Linked DNA regions of Homo sapiens: all the other regions are reported to be linked to region 1. Evidence: microRNA targets listed by miRTarBase, many of them from high-throughput screens and not tested one by one. Region 1 holds a microRNA gene; each other region holds the end of a gene's coding sequence.
Evidence for each region. The annotated mature microRNA hsa-miR-7-1-3p reads CAACAAAUCACAGUCUGCCAUA and lies in region 1 at 1,738-1,759, shown strand. An mRNA with a match to its seed (bases 2 to 7 or 8) in the 3' UTR can be bound and repressed. Matches are read on the target gene's strand: a 7mer-m8 pairs with bases 2 to 8, a 7mer-A1 pairs with bases 2 to 7 and ends in A, and an 8mer does both.

Region 1 (3,000 bases):
ATTTGCTGCTGGAGGATTACGACTTTATTGAGCTTTGTTCCCCTCGATTACAAAATTGCTGCCTATATATGTACCCTCTTTTGTTTTAATGTAACATGCAAATTAGGCATATTAAAAACAGCTCTATAACAAAATACAATGCGGGTTCATGTTAATGTTTTTATCTCTAACAGGTTGGTTTCAGTGCTGATGAAACTTGGGACTCTGCAATAGATACATGGAGCCCATCAGAATGGCAGATGGCTTATGAACCACAGGTTGAGTATCATAGTTGTTCGTGTGTATATCAGTGATAATTTAAGATGCTTACCTGCTCTCCAGTAAGTTTTTTATTCCCCTGAGGATACTTACTGAAAATAGGATACAGGAGGACTTTGGTTTCCTGAAGAGGGATTTTATGAGATTAAAATACTTGAATAGTGAAGCTGGGTGCAGTGGTGCTCACTCATAATCCCAACTACAAAAGAGTCTGAGGCAGGAGGATCACTTGAGCCCGAGAGTTTGAGACCAGCCTGGGCAACATAGCAAGACTCCATTTTATTAAATGAATTTTTTTAAAGTACCGGTAGTAATTACAACGGCAAAGTAATTTTCTATTTTTTTCTTTCTGTTTTTAGGGTGGCTCCGGATATGGTAAGTTCTCTCCTTTGTGAAGTCAAACATTAATTTCATACTTTTTAAATGAACTTACTGCTCATTATTTAAATCAGATTATTCCTATGCAGGGGGTCGTGGCTCATATGGTGATCTTGGTGGACCTATTATTACTACACAAGTAACTATTCCCAAAGATGTAAGTATCTTTAATACTACCAGGAACATTTTATCACTTTTATGATTATTCCTCCTTTCTGTATATTTTTTAATTCAGAAGGTTTTAACAAAAATACACATTTAGGATTGAGGTTATGTTAATGGGCTTTAGTGAGCTGGGTTTTCAGCTGTTTGAGTCTTGTCAAGTGATCAGTGCTATTAATAAAAGTAGTTAAGTAGGTTTTGAGCCCTTAACTAACTAAGGGAAACATTAGTAAGTGTGACATAAATACATTATAACTCAAACCTTGACAGGTTTAGGGAGCGTTAGATCATCAGTTAAGATTCTGAATGAATAAAATTAATAACTTCATGCTCCTTGAAAATACAGGTAGTAAATGTTAAAAGTATATCGTAAACACATACTTTTAAAAAATCTTTTCAGTTGGCTGGATCTATTATTGGCAAAGGTGGTCAGCGGATTAAACAAATCCGTCATGAGTCGGGAGCTTCGATCAAAATTGATGAGCCTTTAGAAGGATCCGAAGATCGGATCATTACCATTACAGGAACACAGGACCAGATACAGAATGCACAGTATTTGCTGCAGAACAGGTCAGTTTAAGTTTAGCTTTGTGTTAGCTTATACATACTAAAACCTTTAAAAAGCTTTTCTTCTCAATTGATTTTTTTCTTTTAGAAGCCATGGTGTCTCAACCTTTTGGGGACCTAACTTCTAAACATTCTAATAGTTTGCCTTAATTTTTCTTCTGCTTTCTTACTAAAAATGAAGACATTCAATACTAATCTTGCTGGAAGAAGCCTTAACCAAGCAAACTTCTCATTTCTCTGGTGAAAACTGCTGCCAAAACCACTTGTTAAAAATTGTACAGAGCCTGTAGAAAATATAGAAGATTCATTGGATGTTGGCCTAGTTCTGTGTGGAAGACTAGTGATTTTGTTGTTTTTAGATAACTAAATCGACAACAAATCACAGTCTGCCATATGGCACAGGCCATGCCTCTACAGGACAAATGATTGGTGCTGTAAAATGCAGCATTTCACACCTTACTAGCATTCTTTGTCTTTTCTACCAAATATTAACAACTTTCAATTCCGTTTTCTTAATTCTGTTCTACTAATGTCCGATTTACTACTCATCATTTTTCTTGACACTTAACATTGCTTTAATTTGTAATTGCTAATGGTTTTTGAACTCTTCTAATTGTAATGGACGTGTTTATCATTTTAATTTAGCATTGAAATTGTCTTGATGTTGATTAAGATGTTACGAGCAAAAATTCTAATTCGCACTTTTTTTTCTTTTCTTTTATAGTGTGAAGCAGTATGCAGATGTTGAAGGATTCTAATGCAAGATATTTTTTCTTTTTTATAGTGTGAAGCAGTATTCTGGAAAGTTTTTCTAAGACTAGTGAAGAACTGAAGGAGTCCTGCATCTTTTTTTTTTTATCTGCTTCTGTTTAAAAAGCCAACATTCCTCTGCTTCATAGGTGTTCTGCATTTGAGGTGTAGTGAAATCTTTGCTGTTCACCAGATGTAATGTTTTAGTTCCTTACAAACAGGGTTGGGGGGGGGAAGGGCGTGCAAAAACTAACATTGAAATTTTGAAACAGCAGCAGAGTGAGTGGATTTTATTTTTCGTTATTGTTGGTGGTTTAAAAAATTCCCCCCATGTAATTATTGTGAACACCTTGCTTTGTGGTCACTGTAACATTTGGGGGGTGGGACAGGGAGGAAAAGTAACAATAGTCCACATGTCCCTGGCATCTGTTCAGAGCAGTGTGCAGAATGTAATGCTCTTTTGTAAGAAACGTTTTATGATTTTTAAAATAAATTTAGTGAACCTATTTTTGGTGGTCATTTTTTTTTTAAGACAGTCATTTTAAAATGGTGGCTGAATTTCCCAACCCACCCCCAAACTAAACACTAAGTTTAATTTTCAGCTCCTCTGTTGGACATATAAGTGCATCTCTTGTTGGACATAGGCAAAATAACTTGGCAAACTTAGTTCTGGTGATTTCTTGATGGTTTGGAAGTCTATTGCTGGGAAGAAATTCCATCATACATATTCATGCTTATAATAAGCTGGGGATTTTTTGTTTGTTTTTGCAAATGCTTGCCCCTACTTTTCAACAATTTTCTATGTTAGTTGTGAAGAACTAAGGTGGGGAGCAGTACTACAAGTTGAGTAATGGTATGAGTATATACCAGAATTCTGATTGGCAG
Region 2 (3,185 bases), not on the chromosome of region 1:
AAACTGTTTTGAGTTTTTGTCAGCCCGAAATCGATTTGTGCGTTTAAGTATATGTGCTCATCAAAACAGGCCAGGCTCTGCTGCAGTAACAAACTTACAAGTCTCCGAGGCTTGGCACAACGGAAGTCTTTGTGTCACTGACGCCCACTTCAGCTTTGTGTTGCTGAAGCATTCTTTGGCCCTATCCAAGCTGTCCCTCTGGTGGTGGTGCCTGGGGGTTTGGGTTCCCTCTGTGTTGTGATCCACCATCTCAGCATCGGCTTCCACAGCAGCCATAGCAGGAGAAGAAAATGCTGGGGGCTCTCAGGGTGCTTTTAAGGGCCTGGCCACCGACCTGCAAGGGGTGCGAGTTGCCTTCCTGTGTGGCCAGAACTGATGATAAACTGTAGACTCATCCCTGCTGAAACTCGGCTCCAGAGTGCTCCCAAGGCTGGACAGCGTGTGGGCACTGGATCCCACCTGTGTTAGCACTGGCAATTGTATTCTCATTTCTTCTTTTATTCTCCAGGTGGCAAATGGTAGGATCCAAAGCCTTGAGGCCACCATTGAGAAGCTCCTGAGCAGTGAGAGCAAGCTGAAGCAGGCCATGCTTACCTTAGAACTGGAGCGGTCGGCCCTGCTGCAGACGGTGGAGGAGCTGCGGCGGCGGAGCGCAGAGCCCAGCGACCGGGAGCCTGAGTGCACGCAGCCCGAGCCCACGGGCGACTGACAGCTCTGCAGGAGAGATTGCAACACCATCCCACACTGTCCAGGCCTTAACTGAGAGGGACAGAAGACGCTGGAAGGAGAGAAGGAAGCGGGAAGTGTGCTTCTCAGGGAGGAAACCGGCTTGCCAGCAAGTAGATTCTTACGAACTCCAACTTGCAATTCAGGGGGCATGTCCCAGTGTTTTTTTTGTTGTTTTTAGATACTAAATCGTCCCTTCTCCAGTCCTGATTACTGTACACAGTAGCTTTAGATGGCGTGGACGTGAATAAATGCAACTTATGTTTTCTTGTTGGTTCCTTTTTGAGTGTCACTGTGTTTGTAAAGAGCATTCACAATACGGTGGAATTTCAAAAGCTGGAAGAGCTCGAGATCATGCCTCAGGCAAAGGCGTGGGTCCATCGTTCTTCCGAGAGGGTTTGTGTGGCGACTACACCCTCAGCGTCCCTGGCAAGGTGCAGTTGGCTCTCGCCCATTCTTGTTATGGAAACCTAAGATGATCATTGGGAAGATCAGTGATCTTGGGTCATTGATCCCTGGCTCAGAGGATAGCGGTTTCCATCATAAACCAAGATGATGAGTTCAGCCTTTATCCCTCGTGGTTCCACTAGATGTAACTTAAAGGAGTTAACATTTGAGGACTTTGTTCTACATCAGATTTTACTATTTGAATGTTTAAGATCACTTTATTGAATTTGAAGATCATCAAATTAAATAAAATGATTTATTTAATTTGGATATCCTGATCACTGTCAAGTGAAATGGATCTCTCTCTTTGGTATTTAAGGAAGTTTGTCTTTAAAAAAAAAATAGAGTGTTTTCATACATTTTTGCTTATCCCATAAGTACAGTTGATCAAAGTCATAGTAGGTAAATGCTTTATGGGACAGCTGACACCTTTTAGACCCTACCAGGTATTGCTAGCATGTGAGCTGCAGTTGTGGGGTCTGAGATATTTCTTTGTGGTAGTTTCATACCCATACTATAGAGTCATGTATTTATTTTTGCCTGTTGTGTGATGTAATGCAATCATGTTCCTTTGAGTCTCCATCCCTTGGAAATCTGACTTCTTGCAGAAGGAGTAGGCACATCAAGATATTCAGGGGTGCCCCAAGAGTCTGGGACTTTCAAAAAAAAAAGATCAGGCTGAAACTGCAGTCAGATTTATGACAGCTGACAGTTTTTCAGAGGTCGCACACAGTGACTCTCCTCTCTCAGGATGACGAGGACCTGTGCCTTCAACAAGCAAAATGCTGCTCACGGTTGTCCTGCTTGCAGCCAGTCACTGTGTAAAGCCTCTCTGATGTGCACTTAAGAGTGGGTTGCTTTCTCACAAAGATGGGGTTCTGTGCAGTCACAGGTCACTTCCTTGACAACACAATCATTTCTGATCTTTATCACTGTAACCACGTCTTCTATTCCATAGGAGTTTCTTTTGATTCTCTCAGTTGCGGGGGGCATCTCTTAATCCTGGGGTAAAAGGAGAGATTGCCATACTTAGACTCACTGTGAGTCTCCCCGGCCATTTCACGAGGAGACCACAGTGCTGCCACCAGTGCCTAAACAGGTGGCTGGCATTCGAGACTTCCTCCTGTTCCCTGGGTCAGAGGATAGCGGTTTCCATCATAAACCAAGATGATGAGTTCAGCCTTTATCCCTCGTGGTTCCGCTAGATGTAACTTATAGGAGTTAACATTTGAGGACTTTGTTCTGCATCAGATCTTACTATTTGAATGTTTACTGTTGGATTTTGGGCATCTTATTACTGTTACTCAAAAACATTGACTCTGCATCAAGAAAGAAACAAGAAAGCAATAAAACAAGAAATAATTCATGCTCACATTTTTATGGTGGTTTTTTTTTTTTTTTTAACTTTGGATTTTTGCTTTTCAGCCCAGGAGTAAAGGAATGCCTTATGAACACCTGTGGCCTACGTGTGGTCATGACCCAACCATCAGTGAGATTATTTGAGATATTGGTGTCTGCATCCAGTGTTGTTATCTGAGTGTTTATTACGTAAGTTGTAACACCTCTACACAGGGTGTGAGTTTAGCACTGATGAGACCAGCTCCATCATTGTATGTGGCAGTGAGTCCTGTTACGAGATTGGGTTGGGCAGAAAGGACTGTTGACATGAGCCTGTGGATGTAGGTTGGACAGTCTCAGCCTGTGACTGACTAGGCAAGGAGCGGAGAGGCAACTGTGTGAGGATTCTCAGAGCCAAATTTTTAAGCCATGTTTTGGGTTATATTTCCCCCAACACTCATTTGTGCACTTGGTGGTGTCAATCTTTAGATGCCATTTATGTCTCTTAAGACATTATGAGGCCTCAAGAAGTGTACTACTACCTGGAACAGGATGGGACTCTCTTCAGCTTGCACACTCGGTTCGGCTCCCTCTCAGGGGTGGCCTGTAGATAGAACAACAATGTCCATTTGGAGGTTTGTGTGTCTGGTTTGGTAAACAGGAGAAGAGTTGCT
Region 3 (3,185 bases), not on the chromosome of region 1:
GAGAGATCTTTAATGGAGTGACCCTCACACTCTATAAAACTGACAGGGGCAACGAATTGAACCTGACTTAACAAAAACACATCCTGGTATTCATAAGTCTCTGTTAGGAAGTCCGTGGAGGTAGGTGGGAGCCGGAAGTTAGGGCTCAGCTGGAAAATAAATTAGGACTGGCCACAAAATGCAAACCATTTCTTCATTACCCATGAATAAATATTAGGAAATGGAAGTCCTAAGAATGACTCTTAAACTGAATCCTCACTGAAAATGTAACACAAGCAAATGATTCTCTTTACTTCCTTAAACTAATTCTCTTATATTACATTTAAAACAATTTGTTCAAAATTGCTGTACATACAAACAACTCTAGCAGAGACCCCTACAGTTATTGCTAAGGTGTGCAGGAAAAGCATATTAAGTAGTTTCCAACATATATCATTGTATTTTGTTAGTAAAAAGGTCAGTTCTATAAACACATCTAAAGTTGGAATGTCTGTTCAAGAAGGAAACATACACACACACACCCCCACACATGCCACAGGACCTCTCCAGAAGCTCCTTCCTGCAGCAACTTCTGTCTCAGGACGTGCCGAGCGGCATGATGGTCCACAGAAGCAACTCGGGCTGTCAGCCATGGGGCACCTGAACCCTTAGCAGTGCTGCCTGTAAGCATGTGTGCCAAGGTGGCTCAGAATGGACATCAGGCGGTCACAGAATGTTCCAAGGGTTCACCTGAGGACCAAGGTTATGTTTTCTTGATGCATGATGTCACTCTCAGGAACGGCTCTGGATGTGGGGGGCTGCAGGGGAGAAGGGAGGTGCCACACACCTGCAGACTGAAGAATACACCTTTGTCTCTGACATCACAGACTTGTTTATTCTCAAACATGGGCCTGTTAGAAAAAAAAAAACTGCAGGGATAGCATACAAAAATGAGCTTCTCATATAGATATCCATTAACAGTTTAACACAGCATCTCCTGTCCAGGGCACTGAGCGGGTTGAAAGGGCACCTCTCTTGCAGAGCCTGCCTTCTCTAGACATAGTTAAAAGTTATATCATGAAAATGTACAACATAGACAAAGAAAAGGAGATGATTATCTGCAGGTGTCAGCCTAGGTGGCCTTTGTTAATAAAGACTGCTATCTCTAAGCCAAGATATTTTGTGAAGGTCTTTTTTTATAAAGAACAAGTCCTCAGAAGCCTGATGACATGCTCACGTGACATGGTTATGCCCTGTTTGGCTTTATATGTGATAAAGGCAGCTTCTGATTTCCAAGAAGCAGGACTGCTTTGGCTGTCTTTGTGACTTCATTGCTAAGGACGATGTCAGGAGCAGTGCGGCTCTTTGAGAGTGCCTTCTGACCAGTGCATTTTCATATTCACTGTATCATAAATATTACAGTAAATGAGCTTTTTATATTGCAAACAGTTGTTTGAATGTTTTTTGTTTTTGTTTTTGTTTTTGGAGACAGTCTCGCTGTATCTCCCAGGCTGGAGTGCAGTGGTGCGATCTCAGCTCACTGCAACCTCCGCTTCCCAGATTCAAAAGATTCTCCTACCTCAGCCTTCCCAGTAGCTGGGATTACAGGCATGCGCCACCATGCCCAGCTAATTTTTGTATTATTAGTAGAGACTGGGCTTTGCCATATTGGCCACGCTTGTCTCGAACTCCTGACCTCAGGTGATCCACCTGCCTTGGCCTCCCAAAGTGCTGGGATTACAGGCATGAGCCACAGCACCCAGCCTTGCATAGCAGTTTCTTAGGTTACAGCATGTGGGCAAGATGTGATTTCTGCTCGGAGTTACTGAAGGCGTGCAGGCAGGAGGGAATCCGACTCCGGGACAAAGCCAGTGTGCAGCAGGATTTCTCCCTCCTTGCCTGAAAAGCAGTGGATTCTTGAGGATGCGTAAGTTGCTCTGCACTGAGGACCCTGATGAAGGTGACAGATGCATCTTCTTTCTCTCCACTTTGCTTGCAGGAAGAGGAACCTTGCAGGATGACATTTGCACTACCAGTTAGCATCTGTGTGGACACAGACGATGCCAGGGAACACCGTGGTCAGCCCCACGGCAGCTGTAGGTCCCCCAGTATTACAGAAGAGAGTAAGAGCTCAATTTCTAAGTGTGACCAGACACGTGCAGCATTGTGTCAACCCCGTCTTGACGGCATCCTTGAAAATCAAATGCAGAAGTGATCCTCTAACCTCATCACTCCTTAGGAACTGCAAAGCCCTGGATGCTGTGTTTGGACCTGCAGCAGGCACTTGCTCATCATCAGCAGGGGTGGCTTCAGCTGCTGCCTAATCACTCGCTTTAGAGCATGGTACCGGGTCCCACATCTGGGCCATCTCATAGTGGGTCACGGGTGTTTCTGTGTAGGATAAAGCTTTGTGTCATGACCGTCTCCTCCCTTCCACAAAGGCAGCTGGGTCTCCAAAGACTGAAGGTGATTCCAAGACCTTCTCTCCTTCATTGATCCCTAAAAGGAAGTTTTTATCACTGGGTCCAAGAAACTTTCCCTGGATTGAAGCACACAAGAAACAAAGACAGTTCTTCTCTTGACACCCAGCTCCATGGAAGCACAGCCTCCTGTTTTCATTTCCGGAAGGGGGTGAGCCTGTTGAAGGTGTGCCAGAAGAGCGAGGACTTCCTCTTGGGTTCCGCCAGGCCAAAGACCTGCTGCTGGGGGACGCTTGTGGGCATAGTGATGTGGCGCTGGTGGATGGGGTGCAGGCCCTGGTGCGGTGGGGCCACAGGGCACCTGTTGTAGCCTGACTCGGGAGGGGAGAGAGATGGAACAGGGACTGAGGGTCGCTTGTTAACCAGAAAGGAAAAAAATAAAAATGCTGAGACTCCAAGTCCAAGTTCTCAGCTAATTCTTTTTTTTTTTTTTTTTTTTTTTTTTTTTTGAGACAGGGTCTTACTGTCACCCAGGCTGGAGTGCAGTGGTGTGATCTTGGATCACTGCAATCTCTACCTCCCAGGCTCAAGCGATCCTCCCACCTCAGCCTCCTAAGTAGCTGGACCTACAGGTGTGTGCCACCACGCCCAGCTAATTTTTATATTTTTTTGTAGAGAGCTAATTCTTAATTCACGTTAACCAAAAAGAAGGTCCAGTAGCTACACTTGTTATGTTCAGGTACTCCGTGTGGAGCGTGACACAGTCTCTCTCACTGAACTCTCCCA
Region 4 (3,185 bases), not on the chromosome of region 1:
TTGCCGTCGGGGCGTCGCTCCTCTTCCTCAACATCTTAGCTTTTGCGGCGCTGTACTACAAAAAGGACAAGAGGCGCCATGAGACTCACAGGCGCCCCAGTCCCCAGAGAAACACCACAAATGATATCGCTCACATCCAGAACGAAGAGATCATGTCTCTGCAGATGAAGCAGCTGGAACACGATCACGAGTGTGAGTCGCTGCAGGCACACGACACACTGAGGCTCACCTGCCCGCCAGACTACACCCTCACGCTGCGCCGGTCGCCAGATGACATCCCACTTATGACGCCAAACACCATCACCATGATTCCAAACACACTGACGGGGATGCAGCCTTTGCACACTTTTAACACCTTCAGTGGAGGACAAAACAGTACAAATTTACCCCACGGACATTCCACCACTAGAGTATAGCTTTGCCCTATTTCCCTTCCTATCCCTCTGCCCTACCCGCTCAGCAACATAGAAGAGGGAAGGAAAGAGAGAAGGAAAGAGAGAGAGAAAGAAAGTCTCCAGACCAGGAATGTTTTTGTCCCACTGACTTAAGACAAAAATGCAAAAAGGCAGTCATCCCATCCCGGCAGACCCTTATCGTTGGTGTTTTCCAGTATTACAAGATCAACTTCTGACCCTGTGAAATGTGAGAAGTACACATTTCTGTTAAAATAACTGCTTTAAGATCTCTACCACTCCAATCGATGTTTAGTGTGATAGGACATCACCATTTCAAGGCCCCGGGTGTTTCCAACGTCATGGAAGCAGCTGACACTTCTGAAACTCAGCCAAGGACACTTGATATTTTTTAATTACAATGGAAGTTTAAACATTTCTTTCTGTGCCACACAATGGATGGCTCTCCTTAAGTGAAGAAAGAGTCAATGAGATTTTGCCCAGCACATGGAGCTGTAATCCAGAGAGAAGGAAACGTAGAAATTTATTATTAAAAGAATGGACTGTGCAGCGAAATCTGTACGGTTCTGTGCAAAGAGGTGTTTTGCCAGCCTGAACTATATTTAAGAGACTTTGTAAAAAAGAAAAATGTATATAGCTGTGAGTTTAAACAAAAACCACAAACAGACAAACAAGAAAAAAAGCTTTTATTGGTGTTTTCACTTTGAAAGAGCTTTTAGCAAGGTTGTGCTTTTCATTGTGCTCTGTACGTATATAAATATATATATATATACACACACACACACACATTAGTCATATCACCTCTGTTTCCTCCCCAACAAAAGAGGCTTTTCTTCTTAATTACTTGTGGTAAACAAAGACATGGGATTTTCTTACATGAGATTCTCATTTGTAGGAGGATGTGATGTCCCACAGAAGACCCAGACGGTCTGTGTGGCCTATTTCCCCCGTCAGGTTGCACAGGTGCATGCAAGAGCATTCTTAGGAGACCACTGTTTTGAAAAACTTTTGACTTGTACGTGTTAGCCTTCATGAAATTGCAGTACAGAGATGGGTCCCCAAAGTGGAGTGTATTTACAGCTTGTTAAATTAGAGACATGCACACACAAAGAATCAGTAGGGAGAAACAAAAATACAAGTCCCGTTCTGTAGCTCTGGCCCTTTGAATATGTTTAGGAAGAGTTGCTTCCCATTTCAGGGCCCTGCCAAAAAAAGAAGAAAGCTTGCCTTTGGTGGGGCTATGCCCCTTGGAGTAAATACGGCTCTGTGTTCCCTAGCAGCTGCGGGAGGGTTTGGCCGATGAAGTACCTGCTCAGCTTAGCTAATCAGATTGAAGGAAGACATGTGTCTTTCCTTTTTGTTTAAGCACTCGGTCCCTTATTTATCAGTAAGCAGGTTTTTAAAAATCTTTTATATCATTTATGGGATCAAACATATGATTGTCTGAAAACATCACTTTTTGTGGATTTGTGTATCCGGTCACCAAACGGTGAATATTATAGAAGAATGGGGGAAGAAAGGATAGAATATTAAAACTGCTTTGCATGGGTTTTCTGGGAAATTAGGATAACTTCACTGAGAAGACATTGAATGGAAATTATTCACCCATTTTAAATTGGTGACCTAGGGATCAGAGATTTGTCTTTCCAACAGCTTGTCATTTTTTCATTTCTCTTCTCATTTTTCAGGAAAGTTTTGAGTGTTATAAGGTGGAAGGAAACATAGTAGCAATGGATACTTTTTTGAAAAATTATTGCATTACCAAGAAACAGTAGCCAAAGATATTTGAAGATCATGTTCCTCGGCTCCATTGTGGGTTATTCTAGAAATCCAGTCTTAAATCTCTCCGCTAAAGTGGACATTCCCCATAAAAATTGTCCAGCTGCCTGGCTCTTTTGCAATAACAACCTTTGATTACTGAATCCCTACACTCAAACTATAGTGATATATCAGTGTTTGAGAGTGACCTCTAGAAAAAAGAAAAGTGTTTTTAGAAATGCGTACAAGTCACCCCCAAATCCTATTGCTTATCTTGGGTTAAATTTGAGAGTGATTCTCTGTATATAAATATGTGAAATATTATTATCTCAACTTAGCACACGTGAAGCAACATTTCTTTCCTACAGAGAGGTGTCATGGTAAGATTTCATTCCGAATTCATTGTTTCATAGAGCTATGATCAGGCCATTTCTGCAAGCAATGTATGACCCCACCTGAGCAACCACAAATAGGCTCTCTGTGAAACTACAAAGGAAGTTATGTGTGGCATCCATGTTGGTTTCGTCTGTCTGTAATGTGAATTCCAGTATTTGTTTAGTATTTCCAGTTGTCTCCTGCTAGCAATATGTACAGTAACGCGTCAGGCTTGTGACATTTGAATAAGGAAAAACAGAGTTCCTGTTAAGTGAATAACTTTAGCTTTTACAGGGGATTATGATCAAAAGTGATTTTAGTACATCTTAAATGATATCTTATTTCTACATGGAAAGAAGTTATAGAATCTTCATAGAGTTCTATGAGAAAAAATATACTTGCTATCTATAAAAAAGAGAAAAAAGAAAAAAAATGAGAAAAAAGTAAGAAAAAAAAAAATCCTGTCCTAGGCTTTTACTCTTGATCTTCAAAGGCACGCAGGGTTTAATGGTTCCTTGGGTTATTATTTTGCAGTTTTGTTTTTTATTTTGCCTTAAGTAATGATAGAAGATATATATGGCCGGACACATATGTATAAACTTTTCAGCAGCATTTTTAATAATAAAATATCACAGTATT

Region 2: the mRNA of TBC1D1 is a reported target of hsa-miR-7-1-3p. The part of its 3' UTR that is shown has no 7-base or 8-base seed match.
Region 3: miRTarBase lists SPATA13 as a target of hsa-miR-7-1-3p. Seed matches in the 3' UTR shown: 7mer-A1 at 69-75.
Region 4: miRTarBase lists NLGN4X as a target of hsa-miR-7-1-3p. Seed matches in the 3' UTR shown: 7mer-m8 at 2,721-2,727.

What each region holds. Positions count from the first base shown.
Region 1 is chr9:83,968,530-83,971,529 of GRCh38, reverse strand. It overlaps MIR7-1 (microRNA 7-1), which reads left to right and starts at 1,673; the gene lies at 1,673-1,782. HNRNPK (heterogeneous nuclear ribonucleoprotein K) reads left to right here. Exons shown (of 17, transcript NM_031263.4): 13 at 174-257; 14 at 618-633; 15 at 711-793; 16 at 1,199-1,368; 17 at 2,090-3,000. The coding sequence ends at 2,123.
Region 2 is chr4:38,136,627-38,139,811 of GRCh38, forward strand. It overlaps TBC1D1 (TBC1 domain family member 1), which reads left to right. Exons shown (of 22, transcript NM_001396959.1): 22 at 509-2,547. The coding sequence ends at 709. Among named protein-coding and RNA genes, the nearest start is that of PTTG2, 180 kb to the left of the region's middle.
Region 3 is chr13:24,302,183-24,305,367 of GRCh38, reverse strand. It overlaps SPATA13 (spermatogenesis associated 13), which reads right to left. Exons shown (of 13, transcript NM_001166271.3): 13 at 1-2,770. The coding sequence ends at 2,595. Among named protein-coding and RNA genes, the nearest start is that of C1QTNF9, 5.8 kb to the left of the region's middle.
Region 4 is chrX:5,890,048-5,893,232 of GRCh38, reverse strand. It overlaps NLGN4X (neuroligin 4 X-linked), which reads left to right. Exons shown (of 6, transcript NM_181332.3): 6 at 1-3,185. The coding sequence ends at 416. Among named protein-coding and RNA genes, the nearest start is that of LINC03070, 170 kb to the right of the region's middle.